2 separate regions of the Homo sapiens genome follow, and region 1 is linked to region 2. The links come from fine-mapping of genetic effects on gene expression. A gene starts in region 2. The other region holds a variant in brackets. All regions are shown on one strand. Distances are between the middles of the regions.

Evidence for each region.
Region 1: its variant is fine-mapped to the expression of ZNF121 in whole blood (TOPMed, PIP 0.94).

What each region holds. Positions count from the first base shown.
Region 1 is chr19:9,554,627-9,564,625 of GRCh38, forward strand. ZNF121 (zinc finger protein 121) reads right to left here. Exons shown (of 4, transcript NM_001008727.5): 4 at 5,703-9,999. Among named protein-coding and RNA genes, the nearest start is that of ZNF426-DT, 21 kb to the left of the region's middle. The variant G/A (reference allele first, on the strand shown) is at 4,166.
Region 2 is chr19:9,578,419-9,590,623 of GRCh38, forward strand. ZNF121 (zinc finger protein 121) reads right to left here and starts at 6,086. Exons shown (of 4, transcript NM_001008727.5): 1 at 6,043-6,086. It overlaps LOC105376914 (a long non-coding RNA gene), which reads right to left. Exons shown (of 2, transcript XR_936311.3): 2 at 12,051-12,205. RefSeq lists enhancers at 3,224-4,037, 4,038-4,850, 5,665-6,476, 11,017-11,663.

The sequences.
Region 1 (9,999 bases), 25 kb before region 2:
TAAGAGATGGGCTTTCATCATGTTGCCCAGGCTGGTATCGAACTCCTGAACTCAAGTGATCCTCCCACCTCAGCCTCTCAAAGTGCTGGGATTCAGGCATGAAACACCATGCCCAACCAACCAGGTTTTTTTTTTTAAGTGATAAAAAACTTAATAAAGGCAATACAGGAAATTATCTCGATAATTTCTTGTAAAACCTTTCTTAGACCAGCTACCAAAAAGGTAAAGAAAAACCTTCTACAGTGTGATTATTTCTCCTTATGCAAAGTGCATTTAGATAACCTGGAAGTTGGCCAGGCATGGTGGCTCACACCTGTAATCCCAGCACTTGGGAAGCCGAGGCGGGTGGATCACTTGGGTCAGGAGTTCGAGACCAGCCTGGCCAACATGGTGAAACTCTTTCTCTACTAAAAAACACAAAAATTAGCCAGGGGTGGTGGCACACACCTGTAGACCCAGCTACCAAGGAGGCTGAGGCAGAGAATCACTTGAACCCAGGAGACAGAGGTTGCAGAGAGCTGAGATTGCGCCACTGAACTCCAGCCTGGGTGACAGAGCAAGAATCCATCTCAAAAAATAAAATAAAAATAAAAATAACCTGGAAGTTGAACGTGATGAAAAGTGTGCTTGGATTTAGTTAGGAATATGTCCAAGGCTATGAGTGTAAAAATTTAGGTACATCAAGAAAAGCCGAGAGTACAGAATCAAGTTATACAGAGCAAATACATTGCTTTTCTAGGCCTTCATGATAAATATTTCAGTGTCAGGCCATAATAGCCGATTTAGAACCAAAGAAAAAACTTACAGGAGCAGACAAAAAAGTTGGAGACAGTCATCATCCCAGACCTTCTCAATGTGAAAAAAAGAAGGCAATGATGTATGACCTGCAAATGACATACACTGAGATGCAAGTAAAGTTGAGCCTCTGAGACATGAATGAGAAATCTGAAAAAACAAAACTCTACCTCAACAAATTGGCTGGTTTTGGTTTTGGTGGCTCGTTCCTGTAATCTCAGCACTTTGGAAGGATGAGGCAGGAGAGTAACTTAAGGCCAGGAGTTTGAGACCAGCCTGGGCAACATAGCTAGATGCCATCTTTATTAGTCTGTTCTCGCATTGTTATAAAGAAATAACTAACAGTGGGTAATTTATAAAGAAAAAAGGTTTAATTGGCTCACAGTTCTGCAGGCTGGACAGGATGTATGTTGCTGGCATCTGCTTGGCTTCTGGGGAGGCCTCAGGAAACTTACAATCATAGCAGAATGCAGAGGACCAGGCATGTCACATGGCCGAAGCAGGAGCAGGAGAGAGGGGGAGGTGCTACTCACCTTTAAACGACCAAATCGAGTGACAAGAACTCACTCACTATCTATCACGAGGACAGTACCGAGGCAGGTAGTGCTAAATCACTCATGAGAAATCCACCCCGCCATGATCAAGTCACCTCCCACCAGGAACAACCTGTAACATTGGGAATTACAGCTGAACATGAGATTTGGGTGGGGACACATATCCAAACCACATCATCATCTCTACAAATTTTTTTAACTGTATGAAATTCCACCTCAATAAATAAAATTACTGTTTTAAATGATGAGGACAGCATTTAAAACCTGAAAACTACAGAAATTAAATCGATCTCAGGAAAAAATGTGGCCGAAATAGAAACTAGAGTTTAGAAGATGGCTACTAACAGATTTTAGAACGAACAAACAAAACGTCTTGCAAATTTATTAAGTGCAGATAAATATGTCAAAAAAAAACACACCTTCTTGTTTTCAATATAGAGGACCAGATTCTGGTCCTGTATCAGTGCACCCAACACCACTGTTTAATTTTTAGGAAAAAAATATCCTATGTACAATTTCTTTTCAATCCTAGCCAACACAATCATACAATAAACTGTCGGTAAGGCTTATCTTTTATAAATCCTATTCAAATTGTTTAGACGTTTAATCATTTTCTTAAACCTTCAGTCTTAGACTTACAGTTTTCTCCTTTTATATTGGTACAACCAATCATTTTACCTTAGGACAAAAATTTACCACATAAGATTCTCACACAAAAATTACTTTTTCCTAAATTTGTATTTGGAGTAATAGACCAAAATATATCTACTCTTTTTAGAAATTTTAAGAAGCCAGCTGGGCACGGTGGCTCATGCCTGTAATCCCAGCACTTTGAGAGGTGAAGGCAGGTGAATCACCTGAGGTCAGCAATTCAAGACCAGCCTGGCCAACATGGTGAAACCCCATCTCTACTAATAATACAAAAATTAGCCTGTCATGGTTGTGGGCACCTGTAAACCCAGCTACTCGGGAGGCTGAGGCAGAATTGCTTGAACCTGGGAGGCAGAGGGTGCAATTAGCTGAGATTACACCATTGCACTCCAGCTGGGTGATGAGTGAAACTCCGTCTCAAAAAAAAAAGAAAGAAATTTTAAGAAGCCAAGAATGAATATATATTTTTTCAGTAATTTGTTTGCCTTATATCTTATTTGGATATGACCCAGATAATTAATATTATTTAAGATTTTAAATTACATGAAAAGTTTATTTATAAACATTTATTCCATTTACAGTTACCTTTAATTTCTAATTACACCTAGATTACTTATTAAGATTTGACACAGCTAGTCATTGTTTTAAATTATTTTTTATTAACCAATTTTATATCCTGTTAATATTGTTTACCAAAGTTCAAACCCTACACTAAATACATGGTTATTCTGTCAATAACTCAGAAGATATAGCTATTGTTATTAAATCAAAAATATTAAGTAAATCTCACTTATAAAAGAATTGCACAAAGATCATTGTTTTAGATTGGGTTTAGCTTCATGAACTTAAAGTATCTAATAGAGACAGACACAACACTGTCAGACCAGTAAACCCAGACAAAAATATATGCTGACAATTTTGAAGACATATCTAATTTTATCGACAACTTTAAAACCAATTAATTTATAAAAGAATTGTCATGTGAACTTAAAAAAAATTGTGTTCATTTTTTTATGAACACATTTTTTTTGATCTGCCCTCCTCGGCCTCCCAAAGTGCTGGGATTACAGGCAGGAGCCACCATGCCCAGCCTGATTTCTGTAGTTTTATAGTAACTTTTGACATCAGGAAGCATGAGTTGCTCTTTTTTAAAATTGTTTTTAATACTGGGGCTCCAGTTATGTGTGGGCTTTCATAACCTAATTTCAGAACTGGCTTACCAGAACTTCTGCCATATTCTGGTGGTTACACATATCAATCATAGTACAGTATGAGAGGATTACACAAGGGTAGTCCTCAAATACCAGGAAGCAGAAACTGGAGGCCAATTTGGAGGCTGCCTAGCACAGAGAATTTGTCAATGTCTAATATACTACCTATTTAATCCAGCAATCCTAATTCTAGGAATTTGTCCTGAATGTAAATGCCTAAATATACAAAAATACACATGCTCAAGAATACTAACTGCATCCCTGTTAGTAATTGCAAATTTGAATTCTCTAATTGATGACATGTAGTAGAGCAGCTGAATATTACATGGTACATCCACAAAAGGAGTATTATGCAGCTACAGAATGAAGGTGAAAAAGGAAGATATATCTATGAATTTATATGGAGTGGTTATCAAGATACACTGTTAGGCAAAAATAGAAACTGCAAGAGTATAGTATGAAACTTTTTTTTTTTGGAGACGGAGTCTCACTCTGTTGCCCAGGCTGGAGTGCAGTGGCGCCATCTCGGCTCACTGCAAGCTCTGCCTCCCGGGTTCATGCCATTCTCCTGCCTCAGCCTCCCGAGTAGCTGGGACTACAGGCGCCCACCACCACGCCTGGCAAATTTTTTGTAGTTTTAGTAGACAGGGGGTTTCATCGTGTTACCCAGGATGGTCTCGATCTCCTGACCTTGTGATCTACCCGCCTCAGCCTCCCAAAGTGCTGGGATTAGAGGCGTGAGCCACCGTACCTGCCTGAAATCTTTTTTTAAATGGGCAATAACAAATATATATATGTTCATTTTTGCTAGAAGAAAACACAGGATTATTCAGAGAAAAAGGTTCATTACCTATAGCTGATGGGATAGGAACAGGTTGTAAAGGACAGTGAGATTAGAACAGACTGGAAAGGATAAGGCAAGAAAAACGTTTATGTTTAGTTCTAATGTTTAAA[G/A]TATGCAATTAGGTGGGCGTTGTGGCTAATGCCTGTTACACCAGCACTTTAGGAGGCCAGGATGGGAGGATCCCTTAAGACCAGGAGTTTGAGGCCAGCCTGGGCAACATTGCCACATCCTGTCTCTACAAAAATTTAAAATTAGCCAGTCCTGGTGGTGCACGCTGGTAGTCCTACCTACTCAGGAGGCTGAGGGAGAAGGACTGCTTGATCTCAGAAGTGTGAGGCTGCAGGGAGCTATGACTGCACCACTGCACTCCAACCTGGGTGACAGAGCAACACCCTGTCTCAAAAAAAAATAAGGGTAAAAAATTTAAAAACTGCCTGCACCTGGTGGTGCATGCCTGTACTCCCAGCCTCTTGAGACACTAAAGTGGGAGGAGTGCTTGAGCTCAGGAGCATAAGGCTGCAGTGAGGTACAATCATGCCACTGCTCTCCAGTCTAGGTGACACAGCAAGATCCTGACTCAAAAAAAAAAAAAAAGATAAACCAGTATAAAATAAAACATACTATTGTTTCACATATTAATTTTTTTGGGACAGTCTCACTCTCTAACAGGCTGGAGTACAGTGGCACAATCTCAGCTCACTGCAACCTCCACCCCCAAGGTTCAAGCGATTCTTCTGCCTCAGCCTCCCAAGTAGCTGGTATTACAGGTGGGTGTCATGACGCCTAATTTTTTTCTTTGAGACAGTCACGCTCTGTCACTTAGGCTGGAGTGCAGTGGTGCAATCTTGACTCACTGCAACCTCTGCCTCTGGGGTTCAAGCAATTCTCCTGCATCAGCCTCCCCAGTAACTGGAACTACAGGCACCCACCACCACGGCCGGCTAATTTTTCTATTTTTAGTGGACACGGGGTTTCCCTATGTTGGCCAGGCTGATCTTGAACTCCTGACCTCATGATCTGCCCACTTAGGCATGAGCCACCACACCCAGCCTTTTATTTATTTTTTTTGAGACAGAGTCTCACTCTGTCACCCATGCTGGAGTGCAGTGGCACGATCTCGGCTCACTGCAACCTCCGCCTCCCGGGTTCAAGTGATTCTCCTGCCTCATCCTCCTGAGTAGCTGGGACTATAGGCGCCTGCCACCATACCCAGCTAATTTTTGTATTTTTAGTAGAGATGGGGTTTCACCATATTGGCCAGGCTGGTCTTGAACTCCTGACCTTGTGATCTGCCTGCCTCGGCCTCCCAAAGTGCTGGGATAACAGGCATGAGCCACGGCACCCAGCCGCCTGGCTAATTTTTGTATTTACGGTAGAGACAGGGTTTCACCATGTTGGCCAGGCTGGTCTCCAACTCCCAGTCTCAGGTGATCCGCCCACCTCGGCTTCCCAAAGTACTGGGATTACAGGCATAAGCCACCATGCCTGGCCTGTTTTACATATCTAATTTAAAAAAAAATCGACAAGGATAACGGTGTGACACAAAATGGAAAATTAACAGGAATTACTGAAATGAACTTTGTATCAAATGGATAAAAATTCAACAATGAAGAGGGGGGTAAAAAGCACAAAATTGACCCAAGTAACTTCTTTTATTACAATTTTTATTGTGATAAAAACACATAAAATTTACCCTTTCACATACTTTGTGTGTACCGAAGAGTATTGTTAACTATAGGCATATTTTTATACAACAAATCTCAAAAAGCTTTTCCATCTTGCGTGGCTGACACTCAATACCCATTGAACAACTCATTTTCTCCTCCACCAGCTTGTGGCAAATACCGCAGTACTTTGTTCTTCTGAGTTTGACGTTAGATACCCCATATAAGTGGAAATGGGTGTATTTGTCCTTTCGGAACTGGTTTATTTCACTTAGCATAACGTCCATGTTGTAGCATATGGCAGAATTTTGTTTTTAAGGCTAAATGATATTGCATTGTATGTATATAATGCATTTTGTTTACCAATTCATCTGTCAATGGACATTTACTTTGCTTCCACCTCTTGGCTCTTCTGAATAATGCTGCAATGAACACAGGTAGGCATTCACACATTGAGATGCTTTCTTCAGTTCCTTTGGACATGTACCTAGAAGTGGATTGCTGCTGACCAAGTAAGTTTTAAACCTAGTGCTTTTATATTACGCCCTGAGCTAAAGATAAGAACTGTGAATAAAAACTGAATTCTGGTTAGTTGATTTTTAAAAAGAGTGGTATGAGTTATCAATTCTGAGAGTAGCTTATATTTTAATCTAGGATTGAGCACGTGCTATTTTTGCAAGTGATGAAAGATAGCTACAGACAAGGGAATTTGGAAAGCAAGAAATAACCCAGCAGTGCTGCAGTGGAATTAAAAGTGTTGGCTTGTGGTCATGTTTTTAATATAGAAATAGAGTTATTAATGTGTGGATACGTATATATAATTTTGTATGTCTTTGCCATATCCTCCATAGAGAAGACCTAAAAGCCAGGGCACTATTACCTAGGAACACCTCCCTACACAGAGACTGCAGCTTCTAAATAGTATTCTCCATTAAAATAAATTACATTTTTCTGAGTCTAGGGCTGGAGACAAATGTACCATGAACAAACTGTTGCCCAGAAAATAATTATATACCCATGAAATAAGGAGAATACATTTTTAAAGATTCAGAAGATAGCTTGATGGGGATCCTACTTATTGAATCTGGAAAAATATGTGCATCAAATTTACAGTAGCTAACTACACCCCATAGATTAAGAATTTATGATACATGCTCCTACAAGTAAATGGGTAAATAAATGAATAAGGATAACTCTTCCTTACAAAATTCCAGTTAAGAAATGTAGAAGAAACTATGGAATTAGAAAATCACTTTTTGGACTGGGTGTGGTGGCTCACACCTGTAATCCTGGCACTTTGGGAGGCTGAGGCAGGAGGACTGCTTGAGCCCAAGAGCTTGAGACCAGTCTGGGCAACATAGTGAGACCTCGGCTCTACGAATAAAAAAATTAAGTGGGTGCGTTAGCATGTGCCTGTGGTCCCAGGTACTCAGGAGACTCAGGTGGGAGGATCGCTTGAGCCCAGGAGGTCAAGGCTATAGTGAGGCATGATCATGCCACCGCACTCCACACCCTAGGCAACAGAGCAAGACCCCAATGCAGACCAAAAAGAAAAAAAAAAAAAAGGAAAAGAAAACCACCATTTGGAAACCACTACAGCAACAGCTACAGACATACCTCATGTTACTTCACTTTGCTTCATCTCACTTTACAGATATTTTTCACAAGTAGAAGTCCTGTGGCAATGTCATGTCGAATAAATCTATAACACCATTTTTTCCAACAGCATGTGCTTACTTTGTCTCTCACATCCTGACAATTCTGACAATATTTCAAACATTTTCCTTATTATTATACTTACTGTGGTGCTGTGTGATTTTTTTTTTTTTTTTTTTTTGAGAAGGAATCTCACTCTGTCACCTGGGCTGGAGTGCAGTGGTGTGATCTCAGCTCACTCTAACCTCCACCTCCTGGATTCAAGTGATTCTCCTGCCTCAGCCTCCTGAATAGCTGGGACTATAGGTGCCTGCCACCATGCCCGGCTAATTTTTTGTATTTTTAGTAGAGACGGGGTTTCACCATGGTGGCCAGGCTGGTCTCGAACTCCTGACCTCATGATTCACTCACCTCAGCCTCTCAAGGTGCTGGGATTACAGGTGTGAGCCACCGTGCCCGGCTGCTCTGTGATCTTTGATGTTCCTATTTTAATTGTTTTGGGGTACCACAAACCACAACCTTCGAAGACAGCAAACTTAACAAATGCTATGTTCTCACTGCTCCACCAACTGGCCACTCTCCCCTCTCTCCTCCTCTTCCCAGGCCTCCTAATTCCCTGAGGGACAATATTGAAATTAGGCCAATTCATTACCCCACAATGGCCTCTAACTGTTCAAGTGAAAGAAGGAGTTGCAAATTTCTCACTTTAGATCAAAAGCTGGAAATGATTAACCTCAGTGAGAAAGTCATGTCAAAAGCCAAGATAAGAGCCAGGTGCAGTGGCTCACACCTGTAATCCCAGAGTGTTGGGAGGCAGATAGGGGAGCATCACTTGAGGTTTTAAGTTCAAGATCAGCCGGGTAAACAGTAAAGTCCTGCCTCTTTAAAAAAAAAAAAAAAAAAAAAAAAAAATTAGCTGGCCATGGTGGTGCACACCTGCAGTCTTTAGCTACTCAGGAGACAGGAAGATCACTGGAACCCGTAAGTTTGAGGCTGCAATGGGCTATAACTGTACTACACTCCAGCCTGGGCAAAAGGGAGACCATGTCTCAAAAAAAAAAAAAAAAAAAAAACTGGGATAGGCCAAAATCTAGGCCTCTTGTGCCAGTTAGCCAAGTTGTGAATGTAAAGTTCTTGAAGGAAACTAAAAGTGCTACTCCAGTGAACACACACATAATAAGAAAGGAAAACAGCCTCACCACTAACACGGAATAAGTTTTAGTGGTCTGGATAGAAGATCAGACCAGCCACAACATTCCCTTAAGCCAAAACCTAATCCAGAGCAAGGCCCTAACTCTAATTCTATGAAGGCTGAGAGGTGAGTTAGCTGCAGAAGAAATGCTGGAAGCTGGCAAAGATCAGTTCGTGAGGTTTAACAAGTCATTTCCATAACATAAAAGTACAAAGTGAAGTAGCAATTGCTGATGTGGAATCTGCAGCAAGCATTTCCAGAATATCTAGATAAATGGCAGAGGTAGCTCTACTAGAGTTTTAACAGAGACAAAACAGCCTTACTTCAGGAGATGCCATTTAGGACTTTCACAGCTCTAGGTAAGCTAATATCTGACTTCAAAGATTCAAAGGACGGGCTGACTCTTTACTTTGTAGAGACAGCGTCACGCTCTGTTGTGCTGGCTGGTCTTGAACTCTTGACCTCAAGTGATCCTCCAACCTCAGCCTCCCAAAGCACTGGAATTACAGGTGTAAGCCACTTTTCCCAGCCTGGGCTGGCTTTCTTGTTAGAGGTCAATGCAGTTGGTGACTTTAAATGAATGCTAATATTCAATTACCATTCCAAAAATCCAAGAGCCAGTTAAGAATTATGCTACATCTACTCTTCCTGTGGTATCTATTTACATCTATTTACAGCATGGTTTACTGAATATTTTAAGCCCACTGTAAAACATACTGTTCAGAGATTCCTTTCAAAATATTACCACTGATAATGAACCTACTAACCAAGAGCTCTTATGGAGGTATAAACAAGATTGGCGTTTTCATGTCTGCTAACCGCAGCCCATGGATTCTGGAATAATTCTGACTTTCAAGTCTTATTATTTAAGAAATACATTTCATAAGGCTATAGCTGCCACTAATAATGCTTCTTCTGAGGGATCTGGATAAATTAAGTTGCAGACCTTGCAGAAAGGATTCTCCATTCTAGATGCCATTAACAACATTTATGATTCATGGAAGGAGGTCAAAATATCAACATTAAGGCAGGTGTGGTGGTGTGTGCCTGGAGTCTTGGCTACTCAGGAGGCATAGGAAGGAGGATCACTTGAGGCCAGGAGTTCAAGGCTACAGTGTGCTCTCATCGTGCTGGTGAATACCCACTTGTACTCCAGCATGAACAACACAGCGAGACCTTGTCTCTAAAAAAAATTTTTTTAATTAAAAAAATAAAAACCAACATTAACCAGAGTTTGGAAGAAGTTGATTCCAACCTTCATAGGTGACTCTGAGGGGTTCAAGTCTTCAGTGGAAAAAGTAACTGTGGATGTGATGGAAAAAAGAGAACTAGAATTAGAAGTGGAGCCTGAAGATGTGACAGAATTGTTTCAATCTCGTGAAAAAACTTGAACAGATGAGAGGCTGCTTTGTATAGATAAGCAAAGAAAGTG
Region 2 (12,205 bases):
GCTGGAAGCATCAAACTGCCTGATATCAAAATATTCTACAAAGCTACCATAGCCAAATCAGCATGGTACTGACATAAAAACAAACACATAGATCTATGGAAGAGAACAGAGAACCTAAATATAAATCTACACATTTATAGACAGTTCATTTTCAACAAAGGCACCAAAAGCATACAATGGGAAAATAGCAGTCTTCAATAAGTGCTGCTGGGAAAACTGAATAACGATATGCAGAATGAACTAGATGCCATCTCTCAGCATAAACAAAATCAAAACAGATTAAAGACATCTAACACCTGAAACTATAAAGCTACTAGAGGAAGAAACTGGGGAAACAATCCAGGACATTGGTCTGGGTAAAGATTTCTTGGGTAAGACCTCAACAGCACAGGCAACAGGAGCAAAAATAAACATATGAGATTACATCAAACTAAAAACTTCTCCACAGCAAAACAATCAACAAACTGAAGAGACAATCTAGAGTATGGGAAAAAAATATTTACAAACTATCCACCTGACAAAGATTAGTAATCAAAATATATAAGGAACTCAACTTGATAGCAAAAAAAAAAAAAAAAAAAATCCGATCAAAAAATTGGCCAAAGGTCAGAATACTTGTTTCTCAAAAAACGACATACAAATGGCCAACAGGTATACGGAAAAAATGCTCAACATGGCTAAACATCAAAGAAATACAAATCACACATTACCACAATGAGATGTCATCTCACCTCATAGGGTGGCTTTTATAGACAGGGAATAACAAATACTGATGAGGATGTGGTGAAAAGATAATCCTTGTATGCAGTTGATGGGAATGTAAATTAGTACAGCCACTATAGAGAACAATACTCAGGTGTAGTGGCTCATGCCTGTAATCCCAAAACTTGAGGCTGTGGTGGGAGGATCACTTGAGCCCAGAAGTTCGAGCCAGCCTGGACAACACAGGAAGACCTGTCTGCACACATATGCACACATAAAACCTGTCAGTCACAGTGGCTCATGCCTGTAATCCCAGCTCTTTAGGAGCCCAAGGCAGGTGAATCACTTGAGGTCAGGAGTTCGAGACCAGCCTGGCCAACATGGCGAAACTCCATCTCTACTGAAAATACAAAAATTAGCTGGGAATTGTGGCGTGCGCCTGTAGTCCCAGGCAGGAGAATCACTTGAACCCAGGAGGTGGAGGTTACAGTGAGCCGAGATCATGCCACTGCATTCCAGCCTGGGCAACAGTGAGACTCCGTCTCTAGAAAAAAAAGAGAGGTTGATTCATGGGTAAAATACACAGTTAGAAGAAATAAGAACTAGTGTTCAATAGATCAGTAGGGTGACTACATTTAACACTCATCTATTGTACATTTCAAAACAGCTAAGAGAATAACTTGATTTTCCTGCAATAAAGAAAGGATAAATATTTAAGGTGACAGATATTCTACTTACCCTGATTTGATAATATAAATGCATCAAATTATCACATGTACTCAGAAAACATGTACGTCTATTATGAATCAAAAAACTTTTTTTGAATTTTCAAATAGAGGGTGGGAGATTCTGGGGCCACCATGTCTGTGGGTAAAGATATTCCCTTGTCAGCCAGGCGCGGGTGGCTCACACCTGTTATCCCAGCACTTTGGGAGGCTGAGACGGGCGGATCACGACGTCAGGAGATTGAGACCATCCTGGCTAACACGGTGAAACCTCGTCAATACTAAAAATACAAAAAATTAGCCGGGCGTGTTGGCGGGCACCTGTAGTCCCAGCTACTCAGGAGGCTGAGGCAGGAGAATGGCGTGAACTCGGGAGGCAGAGTTTGCAGTAAGCCCAGTTTGTGCCACTGCACTCCAGCCTGGGTGACAGAGAAAAACTAGTCTCAAAAAGAAAAAAAGAAAAAAAAAAAGATAGATATTCCCTTGTCTGGATCATGTAAAGACATTCCCTACAAAAAGACATTCCCTGCAAGATGTCCCTCCAAGTTACTTCACCTAATACCACCTACCACTAAAAACGAGCAATGAGCCATGATTATGCCATTGCCCTCCAGCCTGGGTGATCCAGCAAGACTCAAAAAAGAAAAAAAAAAAAACTCAGTATGGGGGTTTCTCAAAAAACTAAAAATAGAACTGTCAATAGAGCTACCACCCGTAAACCTCTTGAATTTTGGAGGCAACATATACATTTGTATGTGCTTTAACGCCCCACACAGTTGCCTGTAAGGATTCTAGTTTCAACTGTAGACAAGAGCAATTTCAGGCTGCACTGCAGGCTTCCCAAGCACTTGGTCCACCTGATCCAGCAGACCCAATGATACTCAACGTGTCCATGTTAAATGGCATCCTATTTATTGGAAGCCTCTGGCATACACCAACAGAAGATGTAGAGTAGAGGCCTCTGGTATTCCATAGTCAATCCATGCCCTCTTGTGCAGATTAACTGTTTCTCTTTTGAGAAACAGGTTGTGGTTTGCCACTACCATGCGATAGAGAATGAACAACTAATCATGGGACATGAAGTAACTAAGGCAGATCTGAGTAATTTGAGACTTTCTGGTCCCCAAAGCACGAAGTACATACTGTCAGCCCTTATCAAACAAAGGTTGTCAGCTTCTCCTTTAGGCCAAAAACCCCGAGTTTGTAGGAAATCGCATGAAATAAAGGAATATTTACACACACCATGAGAATCCAATCAGAAATATCTGATTGTATGACTTTCTAAGAGAATGAGTGTTAGGAATAACGCTCAAAATCCTAAGGAAATTGAACACTCGAACAAAGGATTCTTAGCAAAGCAATTTTACTTCTGTGCAGAGGGGTGCCTCCTTGACCAGTTGCCATGAGAGCACACCTGAACAAAGGGGCATGAGAGCCTTTACTCCTGATGCAAGTCCTGCCCCTGTACCCTTTCCCTATTGGCCGGGGTCAGGTCGTACAATCTAAACTAATCCCGGTTGGTGAAACACCTGATTTTTTTTAGATAGGGTGGGCACGTAGAAGAAAAGTGGAGAGGAAGGGGAAGGGATGTCTGTAGTGAGCTAGAAAGTCCTCTTTCTAAGTAAGGAAAGGTATGTGAGCTGGTACTGATAACGCTTTGTACTGTGGCATGCCTGGGCATCTAACAAAGGCAAAAAGGAGAAAAAAGGAGAAAAAGGGGGGGTACTATGAATTAGAGAATAAAAGATTGATGAGATTATTTGAAGAGAAACCTCATCATATCCTCATATCCCACAGTGTGACTCTCCAAAAGTCAATATAATATACAATAATAACTGTTCTAGGTAAAAAGACACTGAAAACATTAACAATTGCAATGTAAAAATCTTGAATGGATCTTAAACCCAAAAACATCCAAGAGCATACGTTGAATCAATGCGGAGAATTTTAGTTATTATAAAAAGCAGACATTAGATGACATTATTATTTTTTATTTAAGTGAAATACTAGTATTGTGGTTTCAGAATGACAGTGCTATTTTTTTAGGCGATGCATTACCAAGTATTTAAAGGTCAAGTATCACGTGTGCAATTATGCTCAATTTACACTCAAATTGTTCACCATAAAATGTATTTACCTGAGGTGAAAGAAAACAAGCACAATGCTCAAAAAGTAAGTGTTCAGGCACAGTGGCTCACACCTGTAATCCCAGCATTTTGGGAGGCCGAAGCAGGTGAACTGCCTGAGCTCAGGATTTCGAGACCAGCCTGGCCAACATGGTGAAACCTTGTCTCTACTAAAATACAAAAAAAAATTAGCTGGGCATGGCGGCATGTGCCTGTGTCCCAGCTACTAGGTGTCAGGCCTCTGAGCCGAAGCCAAGCCATCAGACTCCCTGTGACCTGCACGTATACATCCAGATGGCCTGAAGCAACTGAAGAACAACAAGAAGAAGCGAAAATAGCTAGTTCCTGCCTTAACTGATGACATTCCACCATTGTGATTTGTTCCTGCCCCAACCTAACTGATCAATTGACCTTGTGACATTCCTTCTCCTGGACAATGAATCTCAGGAGCTCCCCACTGAGCACCTTGTGATCCCCGCCCCTGCCCGCAAGAGAACAACCTCCTTTAACTGTAATTTTCCACTATCTACCCAAATCCTATAAAACTGCCCGACCCCTATCTCCCTTTGCTGACTCCTTTTCTGAACTCAGTCTGCCTGCACCCAGGTGATTAAAAGCTTTATTGCTCATACAAAGCCTGTTTGGTGGTCTCTTCACATGGACGCACCTAATGCTAGGGAGGCAGGAGAATTACTTGAACCTGGGAGGCAGAGGTTGCAGTGAGCCGAGATCGCACCTCTGCACCCCGACCCGGGTAGCAGAGCGAGACTCTGTCTCAAAAAAAAAAAAAAAAAAACTACTAGACTGGGTGTGTTAGATGTTCAAGTTTTCCCTAGGATCAAATTTTTCAGAAAAAAATGTCAAAACTACACTTAGTCTAAACATGCTGTTAATAAATTCAATAGATACTACTTTATTACACTAATACTAGAATAATATTCTGATTATAAAGCCTCCATCCTGGCCAGGAGCGGAGGCTCACGCCTGTAATCCCAGCTCTTTGGGAGGCCGTCAGGCGGATTACAAGGTCAGGAGTTCGAGACCAGCCTGGCGAGCATGGTGAAACCCTGTCTCCACTAAAAATACAAAAAAAAAAAATTAGCTGGGCATGGTCCCCATGCCTGTTGTCCCTGCTACTCGGAGGCTGAGGCAGGAGAATCACTTGAACCCAGGAGGTGGAGGTTGCAGTGAGCTGAGATCGCGCCACTGCACTCCAGCCTGGGCGACAGAGCAAGACTCCGTCTGAAAAAAACAAACAAAAGCCTCCATCCTTTCTTCCTGTGGGCCCGTTTTGAAGCTCTGTGGGGGGGTACAGACCTAGGAACTTCAGATAAAGACAACAGCTGTGTATTATTGCCTTTCTTTCTTTTTTGAGACGGAGTTTCGCTCTCATCGCCCAGGCTGGAGTGCAGTGGCAGATCTCGGCTCACTGCAACCTCGGCCTCTCAGGTTCAAGCAATCCTCCTGCCTCAGCCTCCCAAGTAGCTAGGATTACAGGGGACTGCCACCAAGCCTGGCTTTTTTTTTTTTTTTTTTTTTTTTGTGTGTGTGAGACGGAGTCTCCCTCTTTTGCCCAGGCTGGAGTGCAGTGGCGCGATCTCGGCTCACTGCAAGCTCCGCCTCCCGGGTTCACGCCATTCTCCTGCCTCAGCCTCCCGAGTAGCTGGGACTACAGGCGCCCGCCATCGCGCCTGGCTAATTTTTTGTATTTTTAGTAGAGACAGGGTTTCACCATGTTGGCCAGGCTGGTCTCGAACTCCTGACCTCAGGTGATCTGCCCGCCTCGACCTCCCAAATGGCTGGGACTACAGGCGTGAGCCAGCGCGCCCAGCCTGCCTTTCTTTTGTAGAAAGGCTTGTAGCTGGTAACAACAAAAAACATTAAGTCCAAGAAAATAAAATAAGAAACTAAAGGCTCACAGTCTACACGTGTTCATATTTACATGCAGATATAGGCACACCCTAAACGACTATTTTTTTTCCATCAGAAAGTAATGTGTCAAAAATAAGAATAGGACATCAATGCCAGATTCTCAGACGAGACATTTTTAAGCAAAGAAATGGAAGTCAGAGCCCTCTTGAAACCAATTTTCTGCAGGTGTTCACCAGGAACATGCCGGAAACGCCAGGTTCCTGAGGCGCGGAAATGCGGGGCCGGAGCCAACCTGACTGGAACGGCAGAAATCCTTTTACTTTCAGAAAGAAAGAAACTCACAAAGGTTGCTTTCCAAGCTTTTGAAGAAGGGAGCACAGCGGATGAAACCACTCCAGAAAACGCGCGGAGTCGGGACAAACACACTTCCCGACCTGGCTCCTGACTGGGACCCACTGAGCCTGCGGCCTCTAGCCACTGGCCGCGCAAGGAGGACCGACAGCCCCTGGAGAAGAGAGTGAAACGAGGCGGATCGGAGAGGCTCCTGGGCGACAGCACCCAATCGTTCCTTTGCCGCCCCCCGCTATCTCCGGGATCCCCAAGCAGGCGGAACTCACCACAGCCAGGGTGGACTCCACCACGATAAAGGCGAAATGGCACTGACCATGCGGAGCCAGCGCCGGAAAAGATGGCGATTGTGCGCTGACGTCACTTCCGCTCCGAGCCTCGGGCCGGGCGGGGCTCCTGGGTTCGAGTTTCAGCCACATAGGACCCAGTCAAACACAGAAATTGTAGTTTCTTCCCGGGTGGGCGCGGACAGGCCCTTACTTGGGGGCGGTTTAGAGGTGGGACCCGGCTAGCCGGCGGTTCAGGTGGCCGGACCTGCTGGAAGGGCGGGCGTGGGGGATGGGACGCACCCCAGGGGATGCTCCTGCAGAGCTTTTCCCAGGTGGGCACAGTGGCTAAGGCCTGTAAGTCCAACACTTTGGGAGGCTAAGGCAGGTGGATAGCTTGAGTCCAAGAGTTCAAGACCAGCGTGGGCAAAATAGCAACATCCTTTATTAAAATATATATGTGTGTATACATATATATAAAGCTTGTTTGTATACATCTCATGTTCCTAGAGCCTTTCCATGATTCTTCCATATGGATAAAGCTGCCAGTGAATGGCATGGTCTATCTCTTCTATTCAGTCAGGCTTTCTGTAGGCCTTTATTTCTTCATTCTTTATTTTTTAGAACCTGCTGGTTCCATTGCGTTTTCTTTTTTCGTTTTTCTTTTTCATTTTTTATTTTTTTTTGAGACAGATCTCACTCTGTTGCCCAGGCTGGAGTGCAGTGGCATGACCTCGGCTCACTGTAACCTCTGCCCCCCGGGTTCAAGTGATTCTCCTGCCTCAACCTCCCGAGTAGCTGGGATTACAGATGTCTGCCTCCACGCCCAGCTAATTTTTGTACTTTTAGTAGAGAAGAGTTTCACCATGATGGCCAGACTGATCTCGAACTCCTGACCTCCAATGATCTGTCTCCCTCAGCTTCCCAAAGTGCTGGAATTATAGACATGAGCCACCGCACCCGGCCACGTTTTCAATATAATAATATTTTCTGTAAATCTTGATTTTTTTTTGTCTTCATCAAGTATGTATTTCTGGCTGGGTATGGTGGCTTATGCCTATAATCCCAGCAATTTGGGAGGCCAAGGGATCGTTTGAGGCCAGGAGTTTGAGACCAGCCTGGGCAATACAGCAAGACCCCGTCTCTGTTTAAAAAAAATTTTAAATATGTTTTTGTTTTTGTTTTGAGATGGAGTCTAGCTCTGTTGCCCAGGCTGGAGTGCAGTGGCACGATCTTGCTCACTGCAACCTCTGCCTCCCGGGTTCAAGCGATTCTTCTCTCTCAGCCTCCTGAGTAGCAGAGATTACAGGCAGGCGCCGCCATGCCCGGCTAATTTTTGTATTTTTAGTAAAGACAGGGTTTCACCATATTGGCCCAGTTGGTCTCGAACTCCTGACCTCATGATCCGCCTGCCTCACCTTTCCAAAGTGCTGGGATTACAGATGTGAGCCACCACGCCTGGCCAAAAACATGTATTTCTATTGTTATTTTTCTGATCTTCCCACATGGGCCAGGACCACATTTCCTACATTGTAAAATAGCACTGACACCAGACATTCTCCCCAGGTTTATTCAGAAATGTAACATAATCCCAGTAAAAATATTAAAAGTTTTTTCTGGAGTTAGGTACGTTGATACTAAAGTTTATGTGGAAGAATAAATATCTGATAATAACCAAGAAAACAAAAACAAAAGCAATGATGAGCAGCAGATGTTAAAACATACTATTAACAGTTTTCACACAAGGCAAATAATTAAATTATATTAAAATAAAAATAAATAAGACATACTATAAAGCCTCTATAATTAAAACTATGTGGTACTAGCACATGAAGCAGAAACAGACTAATAAAATATCTAAAAACAGACCCAAGAACATGTAGGAATTTGGTTCATAAATGTGGTATTTTGCCAGGCGCGGTGGCTCATACCTGTAATCCTAGCAATTTGGGAGGCTGAGGCGGGAGGATCACCTGAAGTCAGGAGTTCGAAACCAGCCTGTCCAACATGGTGAAACCCTGTCTCTAATAAAAATACAAAAATAAAATTAGCCAAGCATGGTGGTGGGCTTTCTGTAATCCCAGCTATTCGGGAGGCTGAGGCAGGAGAATCGCTGAAACCCAGAAGGCAGAGGTTGCAGTGAGCCGAGATCGCGCCACTGGACTCCAGCCTGGGCAACAAGAGTGAAAATCCATCTCAAAAAAAAAAAAAAAAGGTATTTCAGATCAATGAGGCAAAAAAAGCCATTTGTAATGGAAAGTCTAAGACAGCTGGGTAGCCATCAGAGAAAAGATGAAATTAAATCCATACTTCACAGCATATACAAGAATAAACTCTAAATGGACTAGGGATCTAAATGTGAAAAATAAAACCATATACGCATTCAGGGTGTAAGTGATTTCTTGGCTGAGTAAGGAAAAAGACGTGACCACAAGGCGGCAGTAGCACACAAGCTTCATTTGGGATGTGCTTTGACAGGTAAGGAGTGGCGGGAGGTAGCAAACAGCAAGAGAATATCCACAGGCTTCTACCTGTGGGTCGCTGCTCAGAAAGGGTGGAAAGGAAGAAAGACTCCCAGAGGAGAAGGGGAATCAAAGAGGGGGCTTATATGACTAAGTGACGATGCTCAGCAGCCTGGCAGCATATCTTCCAGTTAAAAAGTTCTGAAGGACAAGTCTGGCCAACATGGTGAAACTCCGCCTCTACTAAAAATACAAAAATTAGCCGGGCATGGTGGCGGGCGCCTGTAATCCCAGCTACTCGGGAGGATGAGGCAGGAGAATTGCTTATACCCGGGAAGCGGCGGTTGTATTGAGCCAAGATCGCGCCATTGCACTCCAGCCTGGGCGATAGAGTGAGACTCAGTCTCAAAAAAATAAAAATAAAATATGTAATTATCTGTTCATTCTGAGTACAGGGAAACACTGATAGGACTATCCTGAAAATAATAAGATTCAGAATCTATCGGGGATAGATGGGAAGGGCTTGAACAGAATGGTGGGATAAGAACAAAATGGAGAGGATAGGGATAGGGAAACCTCTCTGAGCATATCATTCTGTTTAGTTCTGATGTTTAAAATCACATTCTACTTTTTTTTTTTCTTTTTGACAGGGTTTCACTCTGTCACACAGGCTGGAGTGTAGTAGCGTTATCATTGCTCAGTGCAGCCTTTACTTTGTGAGCTCAAGTAATCCTCCTGCCCAAGTACCAGGGAATACATATGTACACCACCACATCCAGCTAATTTTTAAAAATATTTTGGGTAGAGAAGAGATCTCTCTATGTTGCCCAGGCTGCTCTTGAACTTCCAGTCTGTCACATATAAAGTTTTGGTGCCACAAAAGAAATAACACTTGAATATAAAATTTTCTTTTTAATTCTCAGCAAGGCAAGATACTTCTATAGAAGGGTGCACTCTCACAGATGGAGCAATGGTGGGCACACACCTGGACAAGGGAGGGAAAGGGGTTCTTATTCCTGACACACGTGGTCCCTACTGCTCTGTCGTTCCCCTACTGGCTAGGGTTGGACCTCACAGGCTAAACTAATTCCGATTGACTAATTTAAAGAGAGTGATGGAGTGAGCGGTTTGGGAAAAGGGTGCTTTATGAGGAAGTTAAGTTTAAAAGTAGAAGGCAAAGAATTGAGCATACTGACATATTAATTCTTTGAAGAGAAATTTATAATTCATTTTCAACAACTTCCTCCTCTTGCATTTTTTTTATGGCTTTCTCTTCAAACTTATTTAACATGTCTTGACTTAGTTGTTCTGCTTGATTTTCCAAAAGAAGGAGCTTCTCTGGATAAGGTGGAGGATAGTTAAAGGAGGTTTTAGTAAGTGCCATTTCTATGAGCCTCTGCACCAACCTACAGATGCATGGTATGACACGGCACCTGACAAGGATAAGTACACCCATTACGGCTACAAGGGAGGTGAGAATTGAGGCTATTATTCCTTTCCATTTACCGAACCACTTTTCTAGCCATTCTGTAAATGGGTAATTTACCCCTGAATTGCTGGCCAACTCATTGGATAGAGGAGTCAGGCCTTGCAATGCCTTTCTTATACTTCCATTAGGGGCCGTGTTGTTTGGGATGAAGTTGCAACAATGAGTTTTAATAATGATGCAAACTCCTCCTCTTTCTGCTAATACCATGTCTAAAGCTATCCTATTTTCCCAAGCCATCAGGTTAGTAGCCCCCAATTGCTCAGCTATTCCTTTAACAGCATCTCTAGTGTAGTTAATAAATCGCTGTTGGTTGTAATAGATGTAGTTTACCCAATCTACATTTTTTTTTTTTTGAGATGGAGTCTCACTCTGTCACCCAGGCTGGAATGCAGTGGTGCGATCTTGGCTCACTGCAAGCTCCGCCTCCTGGGTTCATGCCATTCTCCTACCTCAGCCTCCTGAGTAGTTGGGACTACAGGCACCTGCCACCATGCCCGGTGAATTTTTTGTATTTTTAGTAGAGACAGGGTTTCACCGCGTTACCCAGGATGGTCTCAATCTCCTGACCTTGTGATCCGCCCGCCTCGGCCTCCCAAAGTGCTGGGATTACAGGCATGAGCCATCGCGCCCGGCCCACCCAATCTACATTTTTATTAACTGTCGCCTACCAAAATATTGACTTAAATCCTGCAGCTATTGGATTTTGGGCTTTAAATTGATCTGGTATTCCCCGTGGGACTCCAATTGCATCTAAATAGCCGTGAGAGTTGAAAGACCTATAACGGGCTTGTCTTGCTTTACGAAGTCTTATCTTTCCTCCCTCTGGTTGCTGAAATGCCAGGGTGAAAGGGATAGCCAATTGGACTAAAGCACAAGTGCCACTCCAGTTATTCAGCAGAGTGTCCAGTAAAGGTCCACCACAATACCACCACACATCCGCTCAGGGATGAGCAAGGGCTGACTGATTGGTAAGCTCTTGAAAGTTCTTAAGCTCACTGCATCCCTTCAGGTCTCCAAGGAACACTAAGTTTCCTCTCTGTTGTGAGAGACACGAAGTGAACTTAATGTTGGGAGATGGAAGCTGGATGGCCCTCGGGGGCTGACCAGCATGTTGTTGAACTTCAGGATATAGCAGAGACAGAGAGTCGGCATGACTCTTTACCCTAGGCTGTAGAATCCTGGAAAAGAGTTACCATGCAGCCCATGCCCGGTCTATTGGAGAACCACCCTAGTGGAAAGGGGACAATCTGGGCCTCTGGCCTGCTGTGCGCACTAGCATAACAATTGCTTTTGTTTAACATGCGGATGGAATATTTGATCCATTCCAACCAGGTATTTACATCTTGGTATCCTGTCTCAATTGCCAAAGTTTAAGTCTTTAACTTCTACCATCGCTATCATGGCCTTGTCCTTAGATGGAGGAGGAACAATGGTTCCGTTGTGAGAGGTTTTGGAAAAAGGCTAAGAGGCAGGTGCAGGCAGCGGGAGATCAAAGAAACGCATTTCAAAGAATCCAGTAGGGTCTGTCCTTGAAACCTCAGCCCCTATACCATAAAACCGGCTTAAAGAAAGGAACTGGCTTAGAAAAGGAGAACTTTGGGGCTCAAAATACTAACCTGTATAGGGTTGCACTGGTTTGGCTGACAGTTGGGGGGGGCTGTCCCTTTAGTAAATGAATGTATGGTTTTAGGAAATTCCAAAAACTGGTTAGGGCAGTCCATCCTTGCTCTTTGGTGGTCCACAGAACGTTGGACCAACTACGGCATAAAAGCTCTACATCGGGGGTTGGGGTCAAGACTCCTGGTTTCCACTGGGATCTTTATGGAAATCTCCCAGATTAAATGGTCCTAATTCACTAATGCCCAGTCTGAGGAGAGCCAGGAGGGACAGAGGTGCTTTTCTGAAGTAGTGAGCTGCCTTTGACTTGACAAATCCCCACAGGGTATAACAAGGCAAGCATTAAATGCAACAGTTTGAGGCAAAATTGACTTGGTTATGTTAATAACTAGATGGTCAGCAACAGAGCGAGGAAAGAAGAAAGAGTAATAGAATAGATGAAAGACAGTTAAATTCTTCTTAGCTTTAGTTTGGTAGGGTTTTCCCCTGGGACTATGGCCCACCACTCTGGAGGTGGTGGCGCGTTCTTGACTCTGGTGTGATGAGTCCATCCTCTCTCTGCCGTGCGGACTGCGGTTTCAGTAGTGAGGAGCAGTAA